4 separate regions of the Homo sapiens genome follow, and all the other regions are reported to be linked to region 1. The links are microRNA targets in miRTarBase. Many come from high-throughput screens and were not tested one by one. Region 1 holds a microRNA gene; each other region holds the end of a gene's coding sequence.
Evidence for each region. Region 1 holds the annotated microRNA hsa-miR-124-3p (UAAGGCACGCGGUGAAUGCCAA, at 2,877-2,898, opposite strand). A microRNA usually pairs through its seed, bases 2 to 8, with sites in the 3' UTR of a target mRNA and lowers its output. Matches are read on the target gene's strand: a 7mer-m8 pairs with bases 2 to 8, a 7mer-A1 pairs with bases 2 to 7 and ends in A, and an 8mer does both.

Region 2: the mRNA of ARPC1B is a reported target of hsa-miR-124-3p. Seed matches in the 3' UTR shown: 7mer-m8 at 958-964.
Region 3: miRTarBase lists FRAS1 as a target of hsa-miR-124-3p. Seed matches in the 3' UTR shown: 7mer-A1 at 5,403-5,409 and 7mer-m8 at 5,088-5,094.
Region 4: the mRNA of GNG10 is a reported target of hsa-miR-124-3p. Seed matches in the 3' UTR shown: 7mer-m8 at 3,708-3,714.

Annotation. Positions count from the first base shown.
Region 1 is chr20:63,174,334-63,181,449 of GRCh38, reverse strand. MIR124-3 (microRNA 124-3) reads right to left here and starts at 2,950; the gene lies at 2,864-2,950. RefSeq lists a silencer at 2,166-2,455 and enhancers at 2,743-3,703, 6,604-7,116.
Region 2 is chr7:99,393,711-99,400,826 of GRCh38, forward strand. It overlaps ARPC1B (actin related protein 2/3 complex subunit 1B), which reads left to right. Exons shown (of 10, transcript NM_005720.4): 9 at 319-409; 10 at 741-1,106. The coding sequence ends at 779. It overlaps PDAP1 (PDGFA associated protein 1), which reads right to left. Exons shown (of 6, transcript NM_014891.7): 4 at 6,593-6,714; 5 at 4,152-4,303; 6 at 963-3,030. The coding sequence ends at 2,972. Among named protein-coding and RNA genes, the nearest start is that of PDAP1, 11 kb to the right of the region's middle. RefSeq lists an enhancer at 126-797.
Region 3 is chr4:78,540,694-78,547,809 of GRCh38, reverse strand. FRAS1 (Fraser extracellular matrix complex subunit 1) reads right to left here. Exons shown (of 74, transcript NM_025074.7): 74 at 3,541-7,116. The coding sequence ends at 6,686. Among named protein-coding and RNA genes, the nearest start is that of ANXA3, 7.5 kb to the left of the region's middle.
Region 4 is chr9:111,666,420-111,673,535 of GRCh38, forward strand. GNG10 (G protein subunit gamma 10) reads left to right here. Exons shown (of 3, transcript NM_001017998.4): 2 at 396-527; 3 at 2,850-3,807. The coding sequence ends at 521. DNAJC25-GNG10 (DNAJC25-GNG10 readthrough) reads left to right here. Exons shown (of 3, transcript NM_004125.4): 2 at 396-527; 3 at 2,853-3,807. The coding sequence ends at 521. Among named protein-coding and RNA genes, the nearest start is that of GNG10, 8.4 kb to the left of the region's middle.

The DNA of each region.
Region 1 (7,116 bases):
GGAAGGAGGGTGGGGGCTCCTGGCCAATGGCCACACAGGGAGCCCTACCTGGAGGTGAGATCAAGGTGGAGACCAGGGGCTGCAGAATAGAGGGACTGGCTGCCCTGGCCCCTGCTGATTGTGGCCTGGCCCCTGCAGCTCCTCCCACCTCTGCTGCTCGTGGACCGGGGGATTTGGAGGAATTTCAGAGGGGACTGTGGGGCCTGTGGCTTCAGCCTCAGCAGCTTTATTAGGTTTTATTCAGAATAAAAATCTTTGGGTCAGGGAAGGGATGTCTTCCTCTGGTCCCACACTGGGGAGGGCCCTGCTGGATAGCCCTGAGCTGGCCTTGCTGGGTGTCATGGTCTGGTCAGAGGGTGTCCCAAGCCCTTGGCTCAAGTTTGCTGTCCACCAGGACCACTGCCTGGCAGCCGACCCAATGCAGGCTGGGTGCTGAGGATTCAGTTGGGGGTATGTGCCCAGCTCTTCCTGAGTGGAGGCGGGCAGTGTCTGTGTGTGCGTGGGAGGTGAGACTGTGTGAGCATGTCTGTGACTGTGGCTGCGGGTGTGAGCAGGAGGAGGAGAGGCTGAGCTGGACATGCAGGGCAGTCCATGTTGGCTGCAAAGCATGGTGATGGTGGCCCCTGCCCCAAGGGCCTCTCACTGAGGCCAGCAGCTCAGCTGCTGCAGGTCCGAGTGGACCCTGTGGCACATGGGGCCCTCCCCGCACTGCGGCAGACGGTGCTACAGCTATGGTAAGGCCTGGCCCAAGAAGGTGCGCACTCAGCTCTGCAGCTCCTTCGCAGTGAGCTTCCCCCCGTGTGCCCCATACCTACTGGGCTGCCCACCTTCCTGTGACCCCCTGAGCTCCAGCCCAGAAGCCACAAGTCTGCCCTGGGGGCTGGGGCCCAGGTGCACCACTGGGGGCAGGCATCAGGAGAGGTAGCTCCCTGACCGTGACAGAGTCCAGGAAGCTCTTCCTAGGAGACCCCACAGAGACTGACTGTCTAGGGACAGTGCCAAGGGCAGTTTGCCCATGCGCTCCCACCAGCTCTCAAGTGTCCCCCTCCCCAGGCTACTGACATGGAAGGTCCATTCTGGCTAGGAGCCAAGTCCCCTCCCCAGGAAGGAAAGTGGTACAAGAACAAAGCCCCAGCCCCCATCTCTGGCCCCAGAGGAGGGAGCAGCCAGGGGCCACCTTCCCTCCGAGGGAAGGGCCAGGCTGGAGGTCAGAGCTCCAAGAGGAAGCTCCAGCTAGGCTAGGGCCACATCTTGTACCCCGAAGGAACACCCCACTCCCACCAGTCCCTTTGGTGTTGTCCTGGAACGATCCTGGGGCCCCTTCCCCTTCTCTAGGACCAGAAGTGCCCCTGGGGGATGCTGCCTGTCCCCTCACAGCGGGAGGAAGGAAGAAGGGGACGCCAAGCCCCGGGGTCAGTGTTGTGGTCAGGCCGGGGCTTGCTGGGGCTGCCTATGCCACTTCTGTGCCCTCCAGGGGGAACCTGCCCCTGAGGAGACTGGTGGACCGTGTTCTGACTCTGCCTGGCTGACTGGGGTGGGGGTGGGAAGATGGAGGCACCAGTGGCTCCTGCTTGTGTCTGCAGCAGGCGACTTGGGTGGAGGGGCTGGAGGTCTGTGCTGAGGACAGCCGCAGAGGCAGGTTCCCTTTGTGGCCCTGCAGCGGCGGTGGTGGGGGTGGAGATGCCACTGCCTGAAACTCAAATGGTTCCTTTTATCCTGATCTTCTGCTCCCTGCCTTGGGCCTGGAGCTGGGAGAACTTCAGGTGACTCAGACTCCTGCCTCGGATTGAAGCCGGGGAGGAGAGGCTCAGCCTCTACCTGGTTAAGAGGAAAGAGGCAAAGCTGCAAAGCCAGGTCTGGCACTCGCCCCAGGGGAAGGGGGCTTTTGGGGAGGGGGTCGTCCTCTGACTGTTACCGGGGCATCACAGCCCAGCCGGGGCCTGGGATGGGCGCGGGGGAGGCGGCGCAGAGGCGGTGCCGGGCGTCAGCAGGTGGCGCTGGCTTCCGGGGACAGAAAAAAAACCCCTGCAGCAAACCCGAGTGGGTGTCACTGCGGCTGCAGATGGCGGCGGGGGAGGGATTTGTCATTTTCTCCCTGGGCTGCGGAGTCTCACGTGCCTGGTCCTGCACAGCCCAGAGCCGGCTTTGGGGGCGGGATGCGGTCCGGCGTGTCCACCGCCCTCGTTTGGACCCTGGACGCGGACGCAGACCCCCGTCCCCATGCAAGCCTGGTCCTGGGCTGCGGGGGCTGCTCTGGGGCCACAGCGAGCGCCGCCTCCGCCCCGCCCCGCGGCGCAGCGGCCCGAGGAAGGGCAGACTTAGCGGTGACCTCAGACCCTGCCCCACCTCCTCCCACGTTGCCGTGGCAACTGTCCAGGGCGCCCGCTGTGGGGGCGAGGGCCGCACTTGGCCGCCCTCCCGTCCCGCGGGGGCCGCCCCGCCGCCAGCACCGCGGACAGCGCCGCACCCTAGCCCGCCGCCCCACGCACCCGCCCGCCGCTCCCCGTGGACCCTCCCTTTGTCTCCCGGGCCCCGCCGCCCTCTGCGGGCGCCTGGGCGCTCCGCGCTGCGGACACACGTGGCCGGGGGCCGGCTGGCCGCAGCCTGGCCCCGGCCGCAGGCTCCCCCCTCGGCCGCCCTCGGCCGCCCCCACCCGCCCCGCGACGCCAGAGGCGTGCGGGCCCCTTTGTGTCCCGCGGCCAGATCCCCGGCCCGGCAGCTGGGCCGCACTCTGGGCGGGCGCATTGTTCGCCGGATTTGTCCGCGGCGCGAATGGCCGCCGGGGGCCGGGCTCGCCTTCCTCCCGCGGGAGGGGCGCTGGGCCGGACGGGCTCGCGGGCCATTTCCATGAGAAAGGAGCGGCGGAGGCGCCTCTCTTGGCATTCACCGCGTGCCTTAATTGTATAGACATTAAATCAAGGTCCGCTGTGAACACGCAGAGGGGCCCTCAGGGCTGGGGCGGGCGGCGAGCGTCGGGGCCAGGGTCGGGACCGGCTCGGGCTTGCGTGGGGTCCTCGCCCGAGGGGCGCGAACGCTCAGGCGTCTTCGCCGCGTGGCGGGCAGGGCGGGGGCGCTGCGCTCAGCCGACTGTGCTGTCCCAGTCCGCCCCCGACTCGGAGGAGCCCACACTTCTCCCCTTTCCGCGGCAGAGAGTGGGCCCCCAAGTGCGTCCCTCCGGGCGTTCCTGGAGCTGGGGCGCCCGGGAATCGCGAAGACGGATTCCGGGGGTGGGGGTGGTGAGCGCGTGCGCACCCGGCCGCCTCCCGCGGGGCTCCGAGGGGCGCAGAACCGCTCCGACTGGGCGGCGCGAGCTCCTCCGCAGCTGCCTTCCCCTGCCGTCGCCCTGCCCGTGCCGACCCAGGAGCGCGCACCGAATGCGGTTAAAAGAACGAATCTCGATGCTCAAAGATGAAAACTCGTCTCTTTTTACAACCCAGCGAGCTCGTCCTCTCCGCGCGCAGCGGGCCCGCGAGAAGGCGCTCGAGCTGTTCGTGGAGAGAAAGACGGGGAGACCCAGAGAGGCCGCTTGCCCGGCTCGCCCCGGCCCGGCCCCGAGCGTAATTACCAGTCCCGGCGGGAGCCGCTGCTGCCGCCTCCGCTCCCTGCGCCTCCCGCGCCGCCGCCAGTTCCCGCCTGCTCTTCGGCTCCCGGGGGCCCCGCGCGCTGCTGCCCTGGGCGGAGAAGGGCGCGGGAACCCCGAGAAGGGAGCCAGGCAAGTCCCCGAGCGCCGCAGGCCGGCTGCGAGCCGAGTGTCCACGGGGTCCACGCTGCAGGCGCCCAGCTCCTGCTAGCCCGGCCCGGCCCCGATGCAACTGTCCCCGCGCCCGCCGCCGCCGCCGCCGTCGCCGTTGCCTCCGCGCGTATCCGCGCTCCGCTCCGGCACCGGCCGATTATCACTGGGGCGCGCGGTGACGTCACCCGGACACCGGCCCCGCCGCTGCCTCCCCGAGGTGTCCTTGAGAACTGCGGGGCACGCGCGCCGCGCACACGCGCACACACGCACTGCGCGCCTCGTGCCTCCCGCGCATTCGCACCGCGTCCCGCCCCGCGCGCTCCTCGGCTCACGCGGACTCAGCCATCGAGCGCCCTCGACCGTGCCCTGCGCCCGGCGGCCACACGGAGACCCAAGGAAACGCCTGTCTCCCACACACTCCAGCCCCTCACATGGCCCTCCTGCACCCACGCGCGCAGCCCCTCCAGCTGCACATTGACACCTCTAGCCACACCCCGCCACGCGCACGCCTCGCCACGCGCACGCCTCGCCGGCACGCAGCCCAGCGGCACCCGCAGACACGCACCCGCACTCGGGCCCTGACCGCGGGTTCGCGTCTCCTGTCTGGCGCCTGCAGAACGCACTCTGCCGCGCAGCTCACACCGCGGTCCTCCAAGCCTCTCAGTCCTGAGAAAGGCAAGGGTCCCGCCGGCCTCCTGCGGATGGCCCTGCTGGGCTCCGTACAGTGGGGTGGGAATTAAAGGTCGTCCTTCCCCGCCCCCATCGGAGCTTGCGGTTCTCACAGTTTCAGACCGGGATGGGAGCTCTTGCCCGTAGGGACCACGGAATCACAGGCGACACTCCACGGCCCGACTGCAGTCACTGCCAGCTCGATAGGGTCCTTGGGGCGCCCCCGATCTGGCCCTCTAGGGCCAGGGATCAGTGGCTTCCCCAAGCCTCACCGTCCGGAGCCTCCCCCGCTGGCCTTTGTTTAGACTGCAAGGAGCGCAGGCCGGCGCGGCCGGCAGGCCTCTGTCCCCATCTCCTTCCTCCTAGGGCCAACCCAGCCCCTGCGCCATCTGCCCTCGGAGCAGAGCCTGGGCCTCCCTGGGAGCAGGTCCTGCTTCCTTCCTTTTCCACCCTCTCCAGCACTGCCCAGCCCATGGACAGCCGGTTAGGAAGGGCGGCAGGAACTCGGGTTGGTTCTGCCCGCACCGACTCCGCCGGTCCTCAACCATCAGGACGCCCCTCCCCCTTTGGTGCGGCTTCAACCTGACCCTTCCCAGCCGCAATTCCTCGCCCTTCGCAAGTGTCAGGGACAATCTTTCTTTCTCACAGGTCACGCACAAGCCCTCTACTCCTCCACAGCCCAAGGGGAACCTTCTGTTCCAAGCGCAAAGCTCTGGAAGCTGCCCCAAGCCTGCGGGTGCCGGCAGCCTCAGCAGGTGCAAGCCGGACGCTGGAGGGGCTGGAGGGCTGGGGAGGCCAGGCTGCAGCAGCCCCGCTTCATTGGAGACAGTTGCCCTTGGCCTCCAGTGGTCGGAATCGGACCCTCACCCTAATGAAACGGGGGCAGTCCCCAGGGCGGTCCTAGGCTCCCAGTCTGAGGCATCCGCTGTCCATGGTGTTGAAACGGAACCCTGAAACCTCCGCCTCACTTTCGGACTTTATACCCCCAGCCCTCTTCTCACCAAGGGTTGGGGCCAGGGAGGCCGGCTCCCGGCCCCCTCCCCTCCCGTCCCCCACCCTTAGCTTCCTGGACGGGTCCAGGACGCCTCGGGATTCCAGCTCCTTGGAGCTTGTTCCCATTCTAAGGGGAAAGACTCCTTAGCACCCCCCATCGGTACCTTGGCTTCGGGGACCCCAAATCTTTCTTTGGGTCTCTTTTCCGTACAGGACCGGCTCCACCTGGGGCAGGGTGGATCGCCGCCCCTGGCAGACCTGTTCCCTCACCTGGCGGAGCACCTTCGTCCTTCCCACTTTACCTTTGGCGGAGGGCTCTCTGGCAGGCCGGGGTGGGTAAGGTGGAAGGCTGGGGGTCGCCCCCTTCCCTTGGGTCACCCTAGATTTTTGTACATCCCTAGAAGAACCCGGCCCCTCTTGGAGTCCTGAGTAGCGATCGGGGTCCCCGGCTCCCCACTTCCACCCCCGGTGTGCAGCGGCCCCCAGCCAGGCGGGCTGGGGGAAGGGCCGTCCAGGGCTTGGGGGCGGAGCCGGCCGGTAGGAGCCGCGCGGGAAGGGGAGCCCGCCTGCAGCCTCTGCCCCGCCCGCCCCGCAGAGTCCGCTCCGGTGGGGACCTTTTCGGTGGCCCCGCGAGCTTCGTAGGTTTCATAAAAGTCAACTTACTGCTGCCGGGCCCGGGCTGGGGTCTGTGCTTCCCCCGCTCCGCGGGGGCCTAGTCTCGCCTTGCCCGGCGCCTTCTCTCCGCCGCCGCCCACGCCGCCGCCTCTCCGGAGCACACGGATAATTTGTTTGTGGATTTGTTTATTTGCCAGCTCCGGGGACAGTGGGGGAGTGAAAAGGGGCGCGAAGGTGGGGGCGGCGGCGCTGCCGGGCCAGCTCGGGCTCCCGGTTCCCGGCGGCCGCCTCGGTGCGCACAAAGGCCGGCGCGCAGCGGGGCCGGCAACTTCGCTACGGGTCAGGTGGCTCCGGCGGGGGCGGGAGCGGGAGGAGGGGAGGAAACACGGGCCGAGACCCCCACCCCCTCCCCCTCCCTCTTGTCCGCCATCCGTGAAAGCCTCCGAATAGCGTGGGATTAAACAAATCAACAGAACCCGTGGAGAACCCCTCCCTTTCCGCTCCTTCTCCCTCGTCACCACCCGCTCCTCCTCTGCGGGAGGCCTGTCATTCCTCCAGAAAGAGGAAAGGCCGCGGCCCACATCTGGGAACAGCTGGCTCACCACCTCTTGACCCTTGACCCTCGCCTCCTTTGGAGTCTGCTGCAGACCACCCCCCACCCAGCCCCTGCAGCATGCGGAGGTGGGGAGGATGTGGAAGGCCAGATGGAGGTGCCCACAGTACAGATGTGGGTGGCAGAGGGGGTGGGGACCCTTGCCTCCCAGTGGCCCACAGCTTCCCAGTTCCAGCTGGGGTGGTCAAAGGAGCTCAGAGGCCCCCACCCAGTGCCTCACCCAGGGATGGCGGAGACTTCTGTCTGGCTCTGCAGCAAGGCCTGGGTCCCCCTCCCACCCAGCATCTGTGACTGTGACCCCAAACATCTCCCCTGTGGGTAAGGGGGCCTCCCATTCCTCCCACGCCAGGCTTAACCTCCAGAGGTGGGCAGATGCTTGGTGCCATGAGGAGCAGGGGCCCCCGAAGGCCCATCCCACCTAGCAGGGGCCCTCTTCCACCCCCAGGAGCTCCAGGGACACTGCCAGGCAGCTTGATCCCCAGGACTAGGGGGT
Region 2 (7,116 bases), not on the chromosome of region 1:
AGCTATCAGCTTAGTCCCTGGCTGCCCCCACCCCCATCTCCTTTTTTGTCCTGTCCAGCTGCACTGCTGGCACTGTGTACACTCCGCAGACACACGTGTCTTTCCTGCCTCCCAGGACTTGAGTGTCCTGTCCCATTTGCCTGCACCTCGCATGCCACTGTCCCCAAGGCAGAACTGACTTCTAAGCCCACTACACCCCCTCGGTACTTCTCACTAAAGCCCGCTCCCCAAGAAGTCTGGGAGCGCCTGGTGGACAGGGTGGGCCTGAGCCCAGCGCCAGCACAGGTTGAATTCATAAGCTCCTCTTCCTCTTTGCAGCCAGATCTCGGTGCTCAGCGGCGGCAAGGCCAAGTGCTCGCAGTTCTGCACCACTGGCATGGATGGCGGCATGAGTATCTGGGATGTGAAGGTGAGGCTTGCCCCTCCTGGCTTCCCGCCATGCCTCCCAGGTCAACCCTTTCCCCCCATCCCCACTCCCTGGAGATGACCCCCATCCTTCACTCCTGCAGAGATGGCACTGCATGGGGATGAGGGGTGGGGGCGGCCCCTTGACATCTGGGCCTTGGTGCTCACTGGGGCACCCGTCTTCAGGGCCGGGATTCCAACCCAGCTGACAGACTCCAAAACTGCAGGTTCTCTGCCCTCTGCTGTGCTGGGGCTGAGATGGGTGATCAGGTCCCTGGGAGTGGGGTGCCTGCAGGACAGCTGAGAACCAGCCTGTCCGTTCTGCCTCCCTGCAGAGCTTGGAGTCAGCCTTGAAGGACCTCAAGATCAAATGACCTGTGAGGAATATGTTGCCTTCATCCTAGCTGCTGGGGAAGCGGGGAGAGGGGTCAGGGAGGCTAATGGTTGCTTTGCTGAATGTTTCTGGGGTACCAATACGAGTTCCCATAGGGGCTGCTCCCTCAAAAAGGGAGGGGACAGATGGGGAGCTTTTCTTACCTATTCAAGGAATACGTGCCTTTTTCTTAAATGCTTTCATTTATTGAAAAAAAAAAAAAATGCCCCCAAAGCACTATGCTGGTCATGAACTGCTTCAAAATGTGGAGGTAATAAAATGCAACTGTGTAAAAAAAAAAAAAAAAAAAAAAGTAATTATGGACATGCTTGCCTATGTGGAAGGAGAGGTTTTTTGTTATTTCCTTGGGGTCTTGCTAAGTTTTCCAGGCTGCACTAGAACTCGTGGGAGCAATCCTTCTGCCTCAGCCTCCCAAGTAGCTGGGACTCCAGGGAGAGATTGGTGTTTGCACGGCCATAGGTAGATAGCTTATTTTTACTGCTTGCCAACAAAATTGATCCTGAAGCCCAACGGCCTTATGCCAAATGGTTCCCTCCCCACTGCTGTCCATCCTGGGCTGCCACTCCCAAAACTGCCAGTACCAGGTGTCACTGATTGACTAGTCAAATTCCTGGACAAAGGGGCTACACACTCCAGGCTGGTTGTGGAACTTTTGTTTTGAGATGGAGTTTTGCTCGTCACCCAGGCTGGAGTGCAGTTGTGCGTTCTCAGCTCACTGCCACCTCTGCCTTCCTGGGATCAAGCGATTCTCCTGCCTCAGCCTCCCAAGTAGCTGGGATTACAGGCATACACCACCAAGCCTGGTTAATTTTTGTATTTTTAGTAGAGACGGAGTTTCTCCATGTTGGCCAGGCTGGTCTTGAACTCCTGACCTCAGATGATCCACCCACCTCACCTCCCAAAGTGCTGGGATTACAGGCATGAGCCACCATGCCCGGCCTGGTTGTGGAACTTCACGGGAATTTATTTTGTCATTACAATGTTGGCAAGATATTTTTTTCGTGTGCTGTAAACTGAGGTTCTGTCTTGGAGTTTATGTCATGTCACCAGGTCCTGTGCTGAAGGGCATTTGCACATCTTTTGTGGCTTCTCTCAGGAAAATGTGGGCCTTGGCGACATCCAATGCTAGTGCTATTCCCCTTCTCCCCTAGAGTTACAGAATTATAACCACCAGGGGACACCTACAGGCCAGGCCAGGCCAGGATCCTGGTGCTGCTTCAGCCTACTGTGGCCTGGAAGGGTCCCTGCCTGCTGAGGCCTAAGATCCTGACTTGGCTAAAGGAGGGGAGGGGGCAGGCTGTGGTATCTAGGGTCCATCCCCGCATCCTGCTCGGTGCCACCTGACAGATGTCATGCCCCAGGTAGGTATGTGCCCTGAACCTTGCCGGGTGCACGTGCCTGAACGTGGCACCGTACCCAGCTGGGTAAAAACGGCTCGAGCACGGAAGCCAAAGGATGGATTGCCAAAACAAAGATTACGATAATGTCAAGTTTAATCTGCCAAATATACAAGTTGAATTTGTGGAGCATGTTTTGCCTGGGTGCCACACAGTAAACAGAGGTTTCTTGAAATGATCAATGGGTAGGGCTGAAAATGGGCACTGGCCCTAGCCAGGTGAGTAGGAACCGGGCAGGGAAGGGCAGAGAGGTGAGGCCCTGAGGTCAGTCAGACAGGACTGACCAGGGACAAGCCATGACCCTCGAGGACCCAGGGGCACAGGCTCCCAGATGATAGCCCCTCTCTGAATGAGCACCCAGGCAACACAGTCCGGGGCTGTGTGTAGCAAACCTGTCAGCAGCTGCCTCCTGGGACAACCACCCCCTTACATGCTATCTATCTACCAGACAAATGAAAGCTCTTCTTACCCCATCTCCCAGGCACCCCCCAGCAAGGGCTCTGAATTCTAAAAACAGCAAAAACATTCAAATGGTTACATATGAAATGCTGTCCTGCATCTTTCTGTCTCAAAGATAGCAGCTACCCCTCCCCCAGTCCCCCCCCCCATCCCCCAAACAATTTCTGTGCCAAGATGAAGAGGAGGCCCCAGGCCATGGGGGGCTCCTGGCCATGAGGGGCTGTTGCAGCGGCGCCAGGGCACAGGGTGGGCGAGACACAGCAGAGGTCCTGGCAGCGCGGCCCAGGTCCCCGGCATCTCCTCCCACGGGTCGCAGTTACTTATTCAGGGAGAGTGACTGCATTCGTTTTCCTGACAATGTGGCATCGTCTTTTGCTGAGGGGTGGGAGAAGGGCAGGGGTTAAAACAAAGCAACCCCCCACCCCCTCCCAACACACGTGCCAGAACCCTAGAACTTTAGGTCTGAAAGGCTGCAGAAAACATTCTGTGCAACAGAGAAGAGCCGAGGCGTGGGAGAGGATTTCTGCTGCAGCTGTAACCCCGGGCCCCCCGACATTCCCGACACGCTTCAGTGGCCAGACCACCTTATAGAAAGCTGTTCCTTCCACAAAGCCCCACCAACACACACTCTTGTGGGCAAACGGAAACTTCTCACCCCACCTCCCAGCAGAACCCTGTAATTCTAACCTCCCTCCACGGGTTCTGAAGTCTAAAATTTAAACATTCCAACAGTTACATGTGAAGTCCTTTCCTGCTTGGGGTTTGTGAAGCAGGGTTGAATGGGAAGTTGGGATCACTGGATTTCTGGTGCGGGTGACAATGTCCCTGAGCAATTGGTTTCCCCTTTCCAGGCCTGCTTCCTCATGGTCTGGTGAGGAGGCAGGACAGATGGACATGTAGGGGCTCTCACAGACCCCCGGGAGATGGAATGTTGCAAGTTGAATGCTCCTATAAACTGGACCAACTCCCATAGCCACTCTGGCCTAGAGGAACCTCCACCATCTCTGGCCTGCCTGGAGGGGAGAGCACAGGAAAAGGGATGCCTGGGCTGGATGTCAAGCCAGTCTGCACTGCTGTGTATCCAGCTCACCCTCCCAAGCCCTGCAGATGGACAGCGGTGACCTCAGGCATCTCTCCTGGGTTCCCAAGGCACCAGAGACCTTAGTGGGACCTGTGAGCCTCAGGCAAGGTCTGTACTAGGGGCATGGTTTCCTGTGACCTCCCGCTGTTGGGAGCAGGAGTGACTGTCCACCTACTGTGGACGGTGCTCTGCTGAGACTTCAACCTACATCCGACCCCATGATGTCGCTGGACCCTCCTGGTCCCCGAGGGAGTGGCAGGCACAGGGAGGGTGGCCCTCTCCTGAACGACCTCCTAGGCAGCAGTCACTCCTCACCTCATTGTCACCTCGCGGACAGGGACACGAGTTCAGTGCTTTGTGGCTGGCCCAGGACCAGAGTTGGGGCCTGTCCCTGCGTGCGCAGCCCAGCCCTTACCTTTCCTTTCCTCTTCCTTCTTCCGGGCAGCCTCCTCCCGCTGTTTCCGGATGATGGCCAGCCGGGCCAGGTCAGCCTTGGCTTGCTCTGTCTTCCCGGCCAAGTGCATTTTCATGTAACGCTCTTTTGCCTTCTGCTTCTCAATCTCTTCTCTGTGTGGATAAAATGGTGTCATGGGGACATCTTTCCTACCACTGTTTGCCAAACTGGACGGGAGTCAGAATAAAGGCCAAGGATTCGGCCTAGGGCCGAGGTGGAAGGGGTGCCCTGGCTGTGAGTCCCTGCCTCCATGAACCCCCTGCTTGGTGGACGTTCACCAAGCAAGTGAGCAGGAGGGAGAGGCCCAGGGAGAAAACATCTGCGATGTCCAGAAAGCCTCAGAGGGAAAGGGGACAATGTCCAGCTACAGCAGGGAGGGGAAGATGCCTGAGGGCTTCATGATCAGGCTCTGGCGGCCATGGAGAGAAGGGGGACCAGGCCAAGAGTGTTCCAGAGAAGATGACCAGGAGGATGAAAGCAGTGGGGACCACATCCTACAAGGAAGGAAGGGCTGGGCATGGTGGCTCAGGCCTGTAATCCCAGCACTCTGGGAGGCCAAGACAAGAGGATCACTTGAGGCTGTAAGTTTGAGACCTGCCTGGGCAATATAGCAAGACTCTGTACAAAATAGAAAATTTAAAAATTAGCCAGGTGTGGTGGCACACATGGCTAAGGCAGCATGGCTCCCAGCTACATGGGAGGCTGAGGCAGGCGGATTGCTTGAGCCCAGAAGTTCAAGGCTGCAGTGAGCTACAATTGCACCACTGCACTCCAGCCTGGGTGACAGAGTGAAATCCTATCTCTAAAAAATACAAACAAAAAAAGGAATGAAGAAGTGGAGGAAGCAGCCACAGGGCATAGGATGAGGACCACAGTGGGAAACAGACACACCCAGTCTCAGGTCAACACCACATGGCCCATTCTTAGAGCAGCTCAGATGTGCACGGTGCTGCCCCCCAAGGGGACAGCCCCCATCAGTAGGGAGATGGGAATAATTGCTGGGCTCCCATGGGACAAAGTGTCAGGAATGAACCCCCTAAGTAGAGTCAGTGGTGAGGGTCATTAGCTTCCTTTTGAGGATCTTCCCAAGCTTGAGATTCTGAACTGGAGTGGATGCCCTTCAGGATGAGATCGGAGGGCCTATTTGCACTGGGTTCCTGGAAGAGCCAAGTGCTGGAGGAGGGGAGGGCCCTGCCTGGCAGGAGGCTGGGAGAGAGACTCGGCCTCCCAGAGGCCTTCAAGGTACACAGAACTGGGGAGTAATGAGAAACCAGGCATGGGAGCTAGCTAGAGGGGAGGGAGAGGGACTCCCGAGTGGGAAGAGCAGATGCCTCACTACAGAGCTGAGGAGATAATACCTGGCGAACCGCAGATCCTAGCTCAGGAGGGATGTGCCACACTCAGAAGCCTCTAAGCTGAGCCTCAGGAATGATGACTAAGGCAGCCCAAAGACTCTGCAGGGCCCTTCAGTGAAAGCAAAATGCCAGGCAGGGTGTCTCTGCAACCCCAAAGGACAGAAGGAGGGAGCAACAGGATCCCTTTTACTGGAGAGGACACTGATGCCCAGAAAGGCACAGCCTTATCGAAGGCTGCACAGCTGCCAATGGCAGAATACCACAGTGGCAGAACACCCAGGTTGCTGGGTTTTTGAAGTCAATGCCAAGAGGAAGCTACTGAAGGGGGACAGAAGGGTCCTTAGCAGCTGCAATCACACCCAAGCTCATGGCCTTCCCCACGAGGCTTTCACAGACACACCCCTCAGCCATTATCCTAAATTCCCAGTCAGGAGAGAAACTAGCAGGCTTCAACCTCTTGTAAGGCCCTTGAGGTCACCTGGTGGCTGCCAAAAGTCAGGGCACCAGTCAAGGACTGATCCTGTGCCAGGCACTTCAGTACATGATCTTGATCCTCATACGACTCTTGAGGAAGATATTTACAGCTTCATTTTCACACAGGACTTGCAGAGGCCTGGGACAGCTGGCTGAGCTGCGCTGGGCTGGACTGCCTTCTGGCCGGCACAGGCTCGCAGCCCCCTTCCAGTCCCCATGGCCACGACATTACAGATGGATGCAGGTCAGGAATGGTCAGATCAGTGGGGTAAGGGAAGTCTCCCCAGGGTGTGGTGCTCTGGAAGAGGGGAATGGAGGGCAACCCTCTGTATCCTGCACCATTACCTCAAGTGTTATGCTCAGGTCTGAGCCTGTTGTCCTATTTCCCCTGATATCATGTATCAATTGGTGAAAACAAATTCTGTGTGGCTTTTTAAAGGCTACTGGAGGGCCATTGGGGAATGAGACAGAAATAAACAGCCACAGCTCCCAGCCAGCTGGGGACCTTAGCATCCCACAGGCCAACTGCTGGCCTGTATTCCCCGTGACACAAGGCCCAGCCAGTGATGTTACCGTTCTCTCCTCGAAAGCTCCTTTGGCCCGTCCAGATCCAGTTGTGTGACCTTTTTGGTTGTCTGTGCCACCCGGTTGGGGTTCTCGATGTCGATGAGCCCTTCAACGCCTTTGCGCTTTTGCTAGAACAGGGCAAGAAGCTGGTTGTTGGAGTTCAGGTCCTGTGGAGCCCCTGAGGGCCACTCCTGCCATCTCTCAACAGCCCATCTGGATGAGGACAAACTCCTGCTCCACCCCAGCCCACGTAGTGCTCAGCCCAAGTCTCACAGTGGGTATAGCTCTCTGGAGCATCTTCATCAGCCTGGGAAGAGCCCACAGAACGGCTGCTCGGGGTCGAATAACTTGCCCAAGTCAACCAGGAAGTAGGTGGTAGATGAGAGGTGCGCCCTACCCCGACTTGCAAGCACTCACACAGCACTACTCCCCTACTTCAAGCTCGGCTTCCAAAAGCAGTTTTCCATGGAATCCCATGCCTGATTCTTCTTGCAAAAAGCGCTGGGCTGGAATCCCCAGGGCAGGGTGGG
Region 3 (7,116 bases), not on the chromosome of region 1:
CCCAGACGATGGGCGGCCAGGCAGAGACGCTCCTCACTTCCCAGACGGGGTGGCGGCCGGGCAGAGGCTGTAATCTCGGCACTTTGGGAGGCCAAGGCAGGCGGCTGGGAGGTGGAGGTTGTAGCGAGCCGAGATCACGCCACTGCACTCCAGCCTGGGCACCATTGAGCACTGAGTGAACCAGACACCGTCTGCAATCCCCGCACCTCGGGAGGCCGAGGCTGGCGGATCACTTGCGGTTAGGAGCTGGAGACTAGCCCGGCCAACACAGCGAAACCCCGTCTCCACCAAAAAAATACGAAAACTAGTCAGGCGTGGTGGCGCGCGCCTGCAATCGCAGGCACTCGGCAGGCTGAGGCAGGAGAATCAGGCAGGGAGGTTGCAGTGAGCCGAGATGGTAGCAGTACAGTCCAGCTTCGGCTCGGCATCAGAGGGAGACCGTGGAAAGAGAGGGAGAGGGAGACCGTGGGGAGAGGGAGGGGGAGGGGGAGGGGGAGAGGACATTTTATTATTAGTGATGCTTTCCAGGTTGTGTTTATTGCATCCATGTGGTGAAAATAGGGCATAAGCCGGGCGCAGTGGCTCACGCCTGTAATCCCAGCACTTTGGGAGGCCGAGGTGGGCAGATCACGAGGTCAGGAGATCAAGACATCCTGGCTAATACGGTGAAACCCTGTTTCCACTAAAAATACGAAAAATTAGCTGGATGTGGTGGCGGGCGCCTGTAGTCCCAGCTACTCAGGAGGCTGAGGCAGGAGAATGGCATGAACCCGGGAGGCGGAGCTTGCAGTGAGCCGAAATTGCGCCACTGCACTCCAGCCTGGGCGACAGAGCGAGACTCCATCTTAAAAAAAAAAAAAAAACCAAGAAAAACAGAAAGAAAAAATAATAATAATAATTTAGCCGGGCATGGTGGCACATGTCTGTAATCCCAGCTACTCGGGAAGGCTGAGGCAGGAGAATCGCCTGAACCTGGGAGGCGGAGGTTGCAGTGTGCCCAGATGGTGCCATTGTACTCCAGCCCGGGCAACAAGAGCGAAACTCCGACTCAAAAAAAAGAAAAGAAAAATAGTGCATAAAGTGGTACTACTGTGCATCTCTTCCCAACTCCACATTCAGTGAAATTATGCTAATGGGTTGTATTCAGCCATAATGGGAGTATATACAACACAAAAACTAGGAAATACTGTAAATGGAGCTTCCCTTTACCCGAAAGGTCAGTTGTGAAGCATTTATCAGCACATCACTCTTTATAATAACAAGCAAATTTAAAATTGAGACAAGATTTGAGTTCAAGTATTTAATTTTGATTTACATTAGAGAAGTGGAACCAAATGGCACTGAATTTAAGGACTGTGTAAGAGTTTGGACAGAAAGACAGAGTACTTAAAGGGTCTGAATAAAGAGTCAAATAAAGGAGCTATTTACAAACGCATGGGCAGAGTTCGGTTAGGTATCCACAGGGATGATATAGTCTCCAAGGACTAGGGACAGGATGAAATCATGACTAGCCTTGCGTGGGCAAGGGAGGGAAGGGGTTTCATCAGAACCCGTGACACCTGTGGCCAGGGAGGGATGCAGCCACCCCAGAATCACAAGGCAGAAGGAAGCAGGGAGGAGGCTAAACACACATCATCTTCTCTCTCATCAGTGGTTCCACTTGGCCAACCTCAACCAGAAGCAAGAGGCAAGGGAGCCTTGAAGAAGCAGTTGATGAAAAGTCGGTTTCCCAGAGCACAGGGCAGGGCAGATTCAGTGTGCAGCAACAGAATCAGCCGCAGAGGGACTCTTGGGAGTTGCTAGTATCCAGCACTGGTTCATTTTTAAAGCATTCCTTAGTGGGATGTTTAAGGGAGATATCTTGATACTAGTTTTTAACAATTTATTAAAATTATTCCAGAGACTGAAATTCTAATAACTTCTATAACTTGCTGAGTAGTCTTGGAACTGAGATATCTTGATACTAGTTTTTCACAATTTATGAAAATTATCCCATAGACCGAAATTCTAATAACTTTTATAACTTGCTGAGTAATCTTGGAACTTGGCCTTAAACCAAAATGAGCCTAGGGATAAAATTCTGCTAGCTTTTTTAGAGAGGGTTGCAGCATAGGTCTATTTTGTTGTATTAATCAAGTGATGTAATTTTTCATGACAAGCATTAAATTTAGGTGATAGGAGTTGGGACCATTTTAAAGCAACATCAAGTTGTGCTTGTGAAGGCCTTCAAAGATTTGAAATTCTGAAATTCATATGAAACTTTCAAAGGAACTTATCCAGGACAACTATGTCTCACGGGGTTGTTATGAAGACTGAATGAGGTACAGAATATAAGTGAGTCATTGTTCTTGATCGGAGCATTGCCAGATATGCCCAATATATCATTTGATATAGTCCCTGTAACAGTCCTGGGGCATTAGCTACTCTCAGCACACAGGGTTCTAGTTAAGAGTTCTCTGTGGCTCATTTGGGGACAGAATCTCTATTACATATTGTGGTATCATAATATTAGGTTGAGACATACAAAACTATTGATATTGGACTATTTTTAACCTATCAAATCAATTTCATGTAGTTGAATGTAATAACATATTCCAAATATAGTCTCCTTCCACCACTCCCAGTGCATTTCTTCAAAAGCAGTCTATGAGGCATTTTAAATTCTAAATGGGAACTCATTTTCTGCCACTATTCCTCAAGATCCCTAAATTTTATGGCCATGACATTTCCAGTCTCAGAAGCATTTTTATAGACAATCCTAACAATTCTTAGATTAATTCCTGGTACAGCTTCTCTGCACTCTAGAGAAGTGAACTCCAGGGCAGAGAGTCTGCTCTAAGGCAACGGATAATCACAGGAAATTGTGAGGATTGGAAGTTTACATTAAGCTCCTGGCAGCATCTCAGCAACTTCCAGGATTGGTTGTGGCATCCCTTCCCCAGATTTTCTATAAACATGCTTTCTCAAGTCTTGCTGAGTTTGCAAACGTGCCAACAGAGCCCTGCTGGTCACTGTTATTGGCAGTTATTTGTTTTATCAGAAGGGAAAGGCACACAAATGCACAGGCTTGCAGAATGCAAAGACCAGCTGGGTACAGCTCCATTTTGACTCTGATTTTTCCTTCCATGAGCCTATAAACTCTTGTTTGGAGCTTTGGTCTTTTCCAGGGTCAGTGATGGATGCTCAAATATTTGCATGTGCACAGAAGGACATAAGCCACCCTCATACTATATCATGTCTCTTTAGAAGTTTTGATAATAAATACAAAAATCATCTTATTATATGGCACATGGAAATTTTAATTATTCCTCTTTGTCTCAGAATTTCAACTGATTGCCAAAGACCTATGATAATCTGGAAACATATAATTTATTCAGCATCTTACTCTGAACACAGTTAATGAGCGTCTCAGATTCACCCTCATTAGAAGGGTTTTCTCCAGAAGACCGCTTCAAATTTAGAATGAATTTTGGCATCTTAATGGCAATGTCTATATTCATAAGAGATATAATCTAAAAAGAACATAGGAAAACAAACAAAAAACCAACAAGACTGTCATTTATTAATACAAATTTATATAGTGGCATATACTATTGGAGAAATCAGAAATTCATAACACACAAATTCATATTGGAAATACAAAAATCATTTGAGAGTCAAGAAATCAGGTTGACAGCACCACAAATGTTTACTCAGTCTGAGCAGGTGTGTAGTATCCAAGAATAACAAATACCTATAGCAGACTGAGACTGAATATCATAAGACTGTGCAAACACATTCCAACACTATTTCCCACCCAACAATAGAATCTGCAGGAGTCCTCTAGGAGGCCTGGGGTACAATAAAAGGGCAGCAAAGCAGAATGGTACAGACCATTCTTTCTTTTAACCTTCACAGCCAGCATATAAAAGCAAGTAGTAACCACTGAGAGTTGTTTGTTCCTTCTCACTTGAAGGCAAGATATAAAAGGTTAGTAAAACACACACAAGGCATTAGTGAGCAAATCAGAGAAATTGAAAGCAGAGCTTTGACTGAAATATAATCCACATTAGTCATCAAATTACTTGATTCCTATAATGAAGTATGAAACAAACCAAATGAATAATTCTACATCAAAGGGGTATATCTCATCTCCACATCTCTTAACACTATTTAACAAGTGTGCATCCACTAGAGAAGTACTGGCATTCAATAACATACATTTAGTGGGGTGAAAGGCAGAAAGAAAGGGAGGCAGAAATACTGCAAGGGCTTTCCTTTCACACACAGTTTCCTATCTCACTCTTGCCCTTGTCATTTCAGACCTTGTACGTGGCGGTTGCTGGGAGCACTCTGGGGCTCAGTCTTTAGTCCTTCCCACTCTAGCTTCATTCTGCCACCTCTGTACTCTTCCCATGCAATGTCCTATTCAGCAGTAATGGAAGGGGTGTGCAAGAAGAATATGTGGGCAAATGGAAAGGTGCTGCTTTAACGTGTAAGCATTCTGGCACTTGGAGCAGTTACACAGTTACAAATAATGGGCCAAATGGAAGTTCGCTCTACAAATTAGCATTCACTCTCTAGGTTGTTCTGGAGATTCTGTGCCTGGCTGATCAGCTCTCCAGCCATGAGATACCAATTCTGGGTGTCCATGAGGCTGATACAGGAGTTCTGCCCTGAATTGCCCAAGCTGGTCTTAAGTAGCACCTGACCAGTCAGGAGTTTCAGACTCTGGGCTCACCCCAACTCATTCTCTCCTGAAAACCTGACACTCATCTCAGAATGCTAAATTAGATTTTGCTCTAAATCTCCTGTTCTGGATGCCAATTCATAGTCTCATCTCCTGCTGATGATACATTTTTATGAATTTTCTGCTCATGCTTCCTTAGGACCACCGCCAGAGTCATGCCTTTGTAAAGCGGTGTTTCTTTCCTCCAAGAAAAGGTTATCTCATAATCCAAGTAGAGAAGATAATTGTTTTCCTCTCTCCTCCCTTGTGATATTGCCACCATACTCTCTCACTTCCCCTTCCTAAATTTACTCCCCATCATTCACCCATGACACCATTCATTCATTCAACAAACATTTCTGGAGTGCTTGTTACATGCAAGGCACTGTTGAAGAATGAAAGGCGTGGCTCACAAAGGTCCTACTTTCAAGGAGCTTGGAGTCTCACAGAGCTGCCTAGAACCTTTCACAGTTCATCCTTTCTAGCTTTTAGTAGCGAAATGTTACTAGTTTGGAATGTTCTCAAAGAGCTTGAGTCATTCTCATACAAATATTACACAATGTGAAGGCTCTGTTATTTGCTTGGTGACTATGGTGTGCCATGCATCAGAAGAGGACATGTCTTTTACTCTCGAATAATGAAATTGTGCCTCCAATTCAAAACAACATGGCATGCACGCTTATGTTTCCGCCAATAAGGCAGAAACAGAAGAGAAACAAAAGCAAGCTGTGTGTAGCCTACACAAAATAGTTAAGCTGATACTTGAACACTAAATTATTTTAGAGCCATGTGTTCATGGCCTTGTCATGTGCTGATATGGTAAAAATAATTGCCTGAGCTACCAGAAAAGAACCCCTCAAAGAGAAATCCCTGAAATACTGCACCAGGAATAGTGCCTCTGTCTGCTGTGTCACACACAGCAAGGAGAACCAGCATGTATCTGTTAAGTCTGATTTCACCCCAACCTGGGCTTTCTCCTAATTTGCCTTATTCAAATGAATCACTTACTTTCCCGAAGCACTAACAGAATAAAAAACCATACCTAGGACATGGGATTGTCTGTTACAGGAACGGGCAAAGACCGGAGTAGGAGGAAAGTGTGGTGGGTTTTCTTTAAAGCATTTATGGCAATGTTGAATTAAAAGGCCGTAGTACATTGATCCTGTTTCGCAGCATCCTTGGTCAGGGATGGATGTCTCAGTGCCACATAAACTAGTTGGGAACAGACACCTCCCTGGGGTGAAGGGCATCACTAATGTGCTCTGATACGCCTGCCAGGCCCCTCCTTAACTCGGGTTTCAGTCTCCCCCTTTGTAGGAGGGAGTTCTCTGTGGCTGAGGAGGCAGAGGCTCCCGTGGTTTTCAGAGGATTTTACTTAAGCACACTGAAATCCCCAGGTAAAAAGGGCTCTGGAAAAGCAAAGTACAATTAGAGGCCAAGGAGCATACGCTGTCAAGTGAAATCATGAGCAAATATATGTGTTGTGTCGATTAGCAGAATTTTTAATGGAATCTGGGTGTCAGCAGTTCATACTCTGCTGTCTGGGGACTCAGGAAAAGCCCTGTAGGAGAAAGCTGGGGCTGGGGGAGGGAACCAAAGGCCCGTACCTACTTCTTCTCTCTGAGATCTGCCATGGTACTCTACCCAGTCCTCTCATCTCCATCTGCTAACCTAATTGTTCAACTCCTGTCCTGATACTAAAGTACTTGTTTTCTAAGACCAGCCTTACAGAAGGAGCTGTGTACAGTTGTTGACACTATTAAAGGGATCTACGGAAATAACTGTAATACTCTGGGGTTCTCAGTGGTTCTTTGCTGAATGAGGTAGCTCAGTTGTGAGTTGATGCATGTGATGTGTGCTGTCTGCCACTCAAAGCTATAGTTTTCCCTTTTTTATCTGCGAGATTATAAAAATACCAGTATTTCCCCCCATTTTATAAAAATGATTTTAGAAAAAAATACACATAGGTCTCCTCCATTAAACTTCTGTTCCATCTTGTAAATTGTTGTGAACTCTGACTTCTAGATTCAGTCTTTTGACTTTAGCACCTTTGAACGTGTAAGCCGCCTCAGGCTCACTCAGGATGTTGACGTTCCGCACAGTGCAGTAGTGTCTATTCACGTTCTTCTCCACCCGGTCCGGGTGCCTCTTGGGCACTTCTACCTTGGTATTCAGAGGATATTCTTCCAAAATGTCCTCTGCGGGCTTCTTCTTCCTCTGTTTCTGGCATTTCCTGTTGATAAAACAAGCCACCAAAAACACCAGAAGTAGAAGCATGATTGCAGCCAGGGCACTGCCAATGGACGCCCCAGTCTGTGACAGGGACGCAGCTACCGCCAACTCTTGCATCTCCAGATTCAGGGACTTCATATTGGTGCCATTCTTGACTTGGTCTCCTTCATTGTCAT
Region 4 (7,116 bases), not on the chromosome of region 1:
AGACTTGTAAACATTAAGACAATTTGCTCATTTGGCAAACTTGGATATATTGATGCATGTTTTATATAAGTAAAAATTTGTAAAGGGAATGCTAGAATGAGCTATTTCTTTACCCGTTCAGTCTCAAAACTAGATTTCTAAATGGATCAAAGATACAGCTTTTTCTTGTCTTCGTTGAATAAGCAACTAAACCAAAAAATATCTAAATTGACGTTCATGGAAATTGTAACCTTTTCTCTTTGTAGTTCAAGTATTAGAACTTTCAGCAGAAAGAGACTTTTGGAGGTCACAAAAAGTTGATATTTACCAAGTTGGATGATCGTTTTCAGAATATCCTTGACTGCCGGGTGGCTTGGCTGTGAGCAGGGTGCCATGTTGCTGTCCCTTTGTTTCAGGTCTCTCAGGCAGCTGCAGAGCTTCAACAGTACTGTATGCAGAATGCCTGCAAGGATGCCCTGCTGGTGGGTGTTCCAGCTGGAAGTAACCCCTTCCGGGAGCCTAGATCCTGTGCTTTACTCTGAAGACTCGTGAGTAATGATACACCATGATGTCTTGGGCCCATAGCATTATCACAGGGCTTCCCAAAGGACTTGAGCAACTGAGTTTTGAATGTCTCCTATTCTTGGGGAAATTAAAACAAGAGCCAGCAAAATGCACAACTTTCCCTGAAGTGTGATTCTAGTGTATATTTACCTTGCCTGTAGAATACATCTAATCAGGACAGTCTGAAGTCTCTCTGGCACTAAGTCATGAGATGCCAACATCCTTCTGTACTTGAGCTCTTTGAGTTGGCTGGTAGTAATTTCTTCCTTTCTTTCTTTCTTTTTTTTGAGACAGTCTCGCTCTGTCACCCAGGCTGGAGTACAGTGGCATGATCTTGGCTCACTGCAACCTCCATCTCCCAGGTTCAAGCAATTCTCTTGTCTCAGCCTCCCGAGTAGCTGGGACTACAGGTGCCTGCCACCACGCCCGGCTAATGTTTGTATTTTTAATAGAGATGGGGTTTCACCATATTGGTCAGGCTGGTCTCGAACTCCTGACCTCAGGTGATCCACCCGCCTCGGCCTCCTAAAGTGCTGGGATTACAGGTGTGAGCCACCACACCTGGCCAGTAATTTCTTGACCTTAAGCCCACCCTCTCTGTCCTTATAGCATCCAAGGGTTGGGATTTGCTACTTAGTGCTATCAACTGACTTGCTACTCTTGGGAATAAGGACTCCCCAGAGTGGGAGATGTGTGCCTACCACCCGCTGTGATTTCTTTCCCAATGGTTTTCAGAATATATCTCTGTTTTAATGGAGGAAGAAATATAGCTATTGGGAAAAAGTGTGAGTGGGGTTAAAAGAGCTTTAAAAATTGATAAATGAAAACACCTCTCTGGTGGCATATTAGAAACTTCTTGGGTTCGAATGCTTTGTATTGGGGTCATTTTCACAATGTGTTTCCCCCCTCATCGCCGAGACATCTTGCTCTGTCACCCAGGCTGGAGTGCGGTGGCGCGATCTTGGCTCACTGCATCCTCTGTCTCCTGGGTTCAAGCAATTCTCCTGCCTCAGCCACCCGAGTAGCTGGGATTACAGGCGCATGCCACCATGCCCACCTAATTTTTTTGTATTTTAGTAGAAATGGGGTTTCACCATGTTGGCTAGGCTGGTCTTGAATTGGCTGGTCTCAAACTCCTGACCTCATGATCTGCCTGCCTTGGCCTCCCAAAGTGCTGGGATTACAGGCGTGACACAATGTTTTTTTAAGAGGACAAGGGCATGAATTATTAGAGTCTTTTGGGACCAACATATTTCAAATGATGTGTTCTAAGGGGTGTTTATACAGTGAGTAATTATCTTAGGTCCTTCTTCACAAGTAGCAAAAGGAAATTGTTCACATTTAAAAGAAGGAAGCAATCTATCAAATCTTATTGTACTTTTTAATGGAAAATGTTCATATTTATGGTGTTAAGATAATAGTCTTATGTTGGCATAGCATTTTTCTTTTTACAAAGCTTCCTTCTTCCCTCCCCTCCCCTCCCCTCCCCTCTTCTTCCCTTCCCTTCCCTCCTTCTTTCCTTCCTTCTCTTTATTAAATTGAGATGGAGTCTCACTCTGTCACCCATGCTGGAGTGCAGTGGCACAATCTTGGCTCACTGCAACCTCCACCTCCCAGGTTCAAGTAATTCTCCTGCCTCAGTCTCCCGAGTAGGTGGGACTGCAGGTGTGCAGCACCATGCCTGGCTAATTTTTGTATGTTTAGGAGAGATGAGGTTTCACCGTATTGCTCAGGCTGTTCTCAAACTCCTGACCTGAGGTGACCTGCCTGCCTCGGCCTCCCGAAGTGCTGGGATTACAGTCGTGAGCCACTGCGCCCGGCCTTACAAAGCACTTTCATGGGTGCTGCTCATTCAGTGGTGTGGTTTAGATGTCTTTTGTATTCACCTGTTACTTTCATTTTTTTTTTGTTTGAGACGGAGTTTTGCTCTTGTTTCCAGGCTGCAGTGCAATGGTGCGATCTCAGCTCACCACAACCTCTGCCTCCCGGGTTCAAGCGATTCTCCTGCCTCAGCCTCACTAGTAGCTGGGATTACAGGTGCCCGCCACCATGCCCGGCTAATTTTTTTGTATTTTTAGTAGAGGCAGGGTTTCTCCATGTTGGTCAGGCTGGTCTTGAACTCCCAATATCAGGTGATCCACCCACCTCGGCCTCCCAAAGTGTTGGGATTACAGGCGTGAGCCACCGCGCCTAGCTCACCTGTTGCTTTCTATTTCGTGAATACTAAAGTACCCTATTAAATGATGACTAGTTAATTTTATAAAGAAATCTTACTAAAGTGAAAACCAAACAAACTCTTTTTCCAGTAGGAGAGAAGTTTGCTGAGGAATGCCTTCAAGCACAAAGTGATGAATGACTGCCTTCAAGTCTCAAGAAAACACTTTTCCCTAACTTTTAGAGATATTTCAGCCCTTTCCTGTGGCCTGGTCCTATAGCCAAAATCACAGATATTCATGAGTTTCTACTTGAGTGAGAAAACTGGGTGAAGGAATAGAATTTTAAATAGTAATAACTGCTTGTTTTTTTTGTGCAAGTACTTTTATACATAAGATAAACAAAAACCTTACCACCAAACATACCAAAATGCACCTCTTTCATAAGTGAGTTACTAAGATTTCTATACCTGGAATATCATGTATGTTTCATTTACTGGATGTTTACATTTTAGGAAGGAAAATAGTTTTGTTTATTTAAACAACTGAATACTTATAAACTGTTGTTCCTGGAAGTTATTTATTCCATAAAAAATTTGTTCTTTTGTCATGAATTTATAATTCCTAAATGAAGACCAGAAAGTACAAATTGCTGGGAGGAAGAATAGGCTTTATTAATCAACTGATGTCTTGATTTTTCTAAATGGGAAGATTGCTTTATTTTTAACACTAATTATGGGAGCAGATTCTTAGCAAACTTCTTTGGAAAAGTTAATGTTATGATGTGCATTAGGCTGCCCCATCGTGTATATAAATGAAGCAGATTTGATTTTTGTATTCTTACGTTTCTCTGCTTTGTAGTTGTGGCTGTACTTAAAGAAATACAGAATTTCATATATTTAAAAATGTTTAAAATGTGACCCACAGAACATTGTAAATGATTAAAAACTAACATGAAAATATTACAACCTAAAAGAATTCTTAACTTCACAAGTGTTTTACTTCGACGATGTGCCTTTGATTTAATTTGGGACACTTTTTTAGAAGGATACATTATTCGTGTTTGCAACGGTCTTTGAAGAGCTTGGAAATAAAATTTCTGCTTAATTAATCATTTTTCTATGACAGCAATATTTTGTGTCTGATTTTGTATTAAGGACTCAAGGATTTCTGTTTGCCTGTGAGATTGAGTGCTGGAATGAGAGAGTGAAATTGTTGTTTTTAAGTCTTTGTAGAATTTTGCAAATGTCCTGAAAAATAGATAACTGTATAACATGAAGAAAATATCTCTATTAATGGCAACATTTGTTCTCTGAAATAGCTATATATAAACTCATAAATAAACAAAAATATCTGTGAGTGTAAGTAGTGTTACAATAGAGAAAATAGAAGTTATTAGATGGGAACTCCCTTAACTTTTAGCTACTAAACTTCTAGATCTAGTGATTGGAATCCCTTCCATTCAGTCATAATTCAGGCATCCCTTTTATAACCTATTTGTTCTCTGGATCTGTTTCACCTTCTCTGAAATTGCACACTACCAGTGATCCTTTCTCCTTCATCTTCAAGTTCTCTGCTGGATGCTTTATTTTCTCTTTTCTTCTCTTCTCTTTTCTTTTTTGAGACAGGGTCTCACTTTGTCACCCAGGCTGGAGTGCAGTGGCGCTATCTCGGCTCACTGCAGCCTCAATCTCCTAGGTTCAAGTGTTCTTCCCACCTCTGGCCCCCAAGTAGCTGGGACTACAGGCGTGAACCATCACACCCGACTAATTTTTGTATTTTTTGTAGAGATGGGATTTCGCCATGTCGCCAGGCTGGTCTTGAACTCCTGAGCTCAAGCCATCCACCCACCTCAGCCTCCCAAAGTTCTGGGATTATAGGCGTGAGCCACTGTGTCTGGCCTCCAGTGGACCCTTTCTATCACAATTTAGCATGTTCCATTCTGTCTTAACAACAACAGCATTTTTTAAAATCCTCATTGAAAAACAAAATTCTTTTTTGATTCCACTTTCCCCTTTCAGCAAACATTTGGTAAGATAGCACAATGAAACTATAAGCATCTCACTTATAGATGAATATAGATGCAAATGTCCTAGATATAAACAGATAAAATTCAGTAGTTAGAGAAAGTACAGCCGGATAAAACTACTTTAACATAACTAAATCTATCAATGTAATTCATTACTTGAATCACTTAAAGAAGGGAACCTATGCCAAAAAGTCATCTGATAAAATTCAATAGCTGTTCTGGGCTAGGTACAGTGGCTCACGCCTGTAATCCCAGCACTTTGGGAGGCCAAGGCAGGCAGATCATGAGGTCAAGAGATTAAGACCATCCTGGCCAACATGGTGAAACCCCGTTTCTATTAAAATTCAAAAATCACCTGGGCATGGTGGCACGCCCCTATAGTCCCAGCTACTCGGGAATCTGGGGCAGGAGAATCGCTTGAACCTGGGAGGCGGAGGTTGCAGTGAGCCGAGATCACACCACTGCACTTCAGCCTGGCAACAGAGGGAGAGACCCTGTCTCAAAAAAAAAAAAAAAAGCTGTTCTGAATAAAAACTAAGTGGATTAGTGAAATGAGAGTAGAAAGAAATTACTATGATGATAAAGACAATTTTTCAAAGCCAACAGCCAATATCATACTACATGGTGAAAGGCTGACACATTCAGATTATCAGGAACAACACAAGAATACCTTTTATCACCACTATTATTCAGCATTGCTTTGGAAGTCTTAGCTAATGCAGTAAGCTGAAAAAATGAAATGATGTAAACATTTTAGAAGAATTATCTGTATTTATGGGTTATATAATTGTACACCTTGAAAACTCGTGAGATTCTCGTACAAGAAATACTTGAATTTATAATAGAATTTGGGAAGCTAGCTGGATAAAAAAGACAGAAAAATAACATTTTCTATACTGACAATAGCTAGTTTAAAATGGAAATGGAAGTTATATTCCCTTTCTACTTTAATGATACAACTATAAAAATACTTGGGAATAAACTTAACAAAAGTGCAAGGTCCCTAAAAAAGATTTTATTGATGTTATAAAACGGAGTGTAAATAAATGGAGGGACATGGCAATTCTAGGATATTAAGACAATTTTGGCCAGGTGCTGTGCTCACACCTGTAATCCTAGCACTTTGTGGGGCCGAGGTGGGTGAATTGCTTGAGATCAGGAGTTCGAGACCAGCCTGGGCAAGATGGTGAAACCCCATCTCAACAAAAGATGCAAAAATTAGCTGGATGTGGTGGTATGCACCTGTAGTCCCAGCTACTTGGGGGACTGAGACAGGAAAATCGCATGAGCCCAGGAGGTTGAGGCTGCAGTGAGCTGTATTCACGCAACTGCACTCCAGCCTGGGCAGCAAAGTGAGAATCTGTCTCAAAAAAACCCCAACAAAAAAAGACAATTTCATTAAAATGTCGATCTTACTAAATAAAATTTCTGCTTAATTAATCATTAATCGTGTGTGTGTGTGTGTGTGTGTGTGTGTGTGTGTGTGTGTGTGTAAAACATGAGGAGGGGGTGGGCATGGTGGTTCATGCCTATAATCCCAGCCTAGGCAACATAGTGAGACCATGTCTCTATTTTTTTTTAATTAAAAAAAAAAAAAAAAACCTCTTGTAAAAATCATTACAGAGAAAAAAAAAAAAAAAAGCAGAGCCAGGCATGGTGTTGTGCACTTGTAATCCCAGCTACTCGGGAGGCTGAGACAGGAGAATCGTTTGAACCTGGGAGGCAGAGGTTGCAGTGAGCCAAGATCGCACAACTGCACTACAGAGAAAACACCTGCCATGTATAGGAGAGATAATGGGCTAATATCCCTAATATACAGAATATTCTGATTGCATGATGAGAAAAAAATGAGTAAACGGTGTGAAGAAGCAATTCACAGAGGAGAAAATCCAAACAAAAGAGCACATAACTCCACTAGTAAGCAAGGGAAATGTAAAGACGGTGATAATGAGGTATCATTTTTCAATCCCTCAAATTAGAAAACAAAAAATAAAAGTGCATATTCATTAAGAACTTACATGCCATGTTCTGAGTATTTATGTGTATTAGGTCATTTACTCCTTATTGGTGTGACCTTGAACAAATCAAATTCTCTGGGTCTCAGTTTCATCACCCATAATTATTTTTTAAATTTGGATAAGAATATCTGCTTTATCTCCTTTGCACAAATGTGGAAAGTGAGGCGCAGGTGAGTTGAACATCGTCCGTAAGCCAACAGTTAATAGATGATAGAACTAGTATCCAATGTCGAGCAGTCTAGCTCTAGAGCCCACACCCTAAACCACTGTGCTGTGTACCATTGCTGGTAAGGATAAAGGAGACTGGGCAGTTTTATACCTTATTAGGGTGTAATGTGCTACAACCCTTTGGGAGAGGAATTTGGCAAAATCT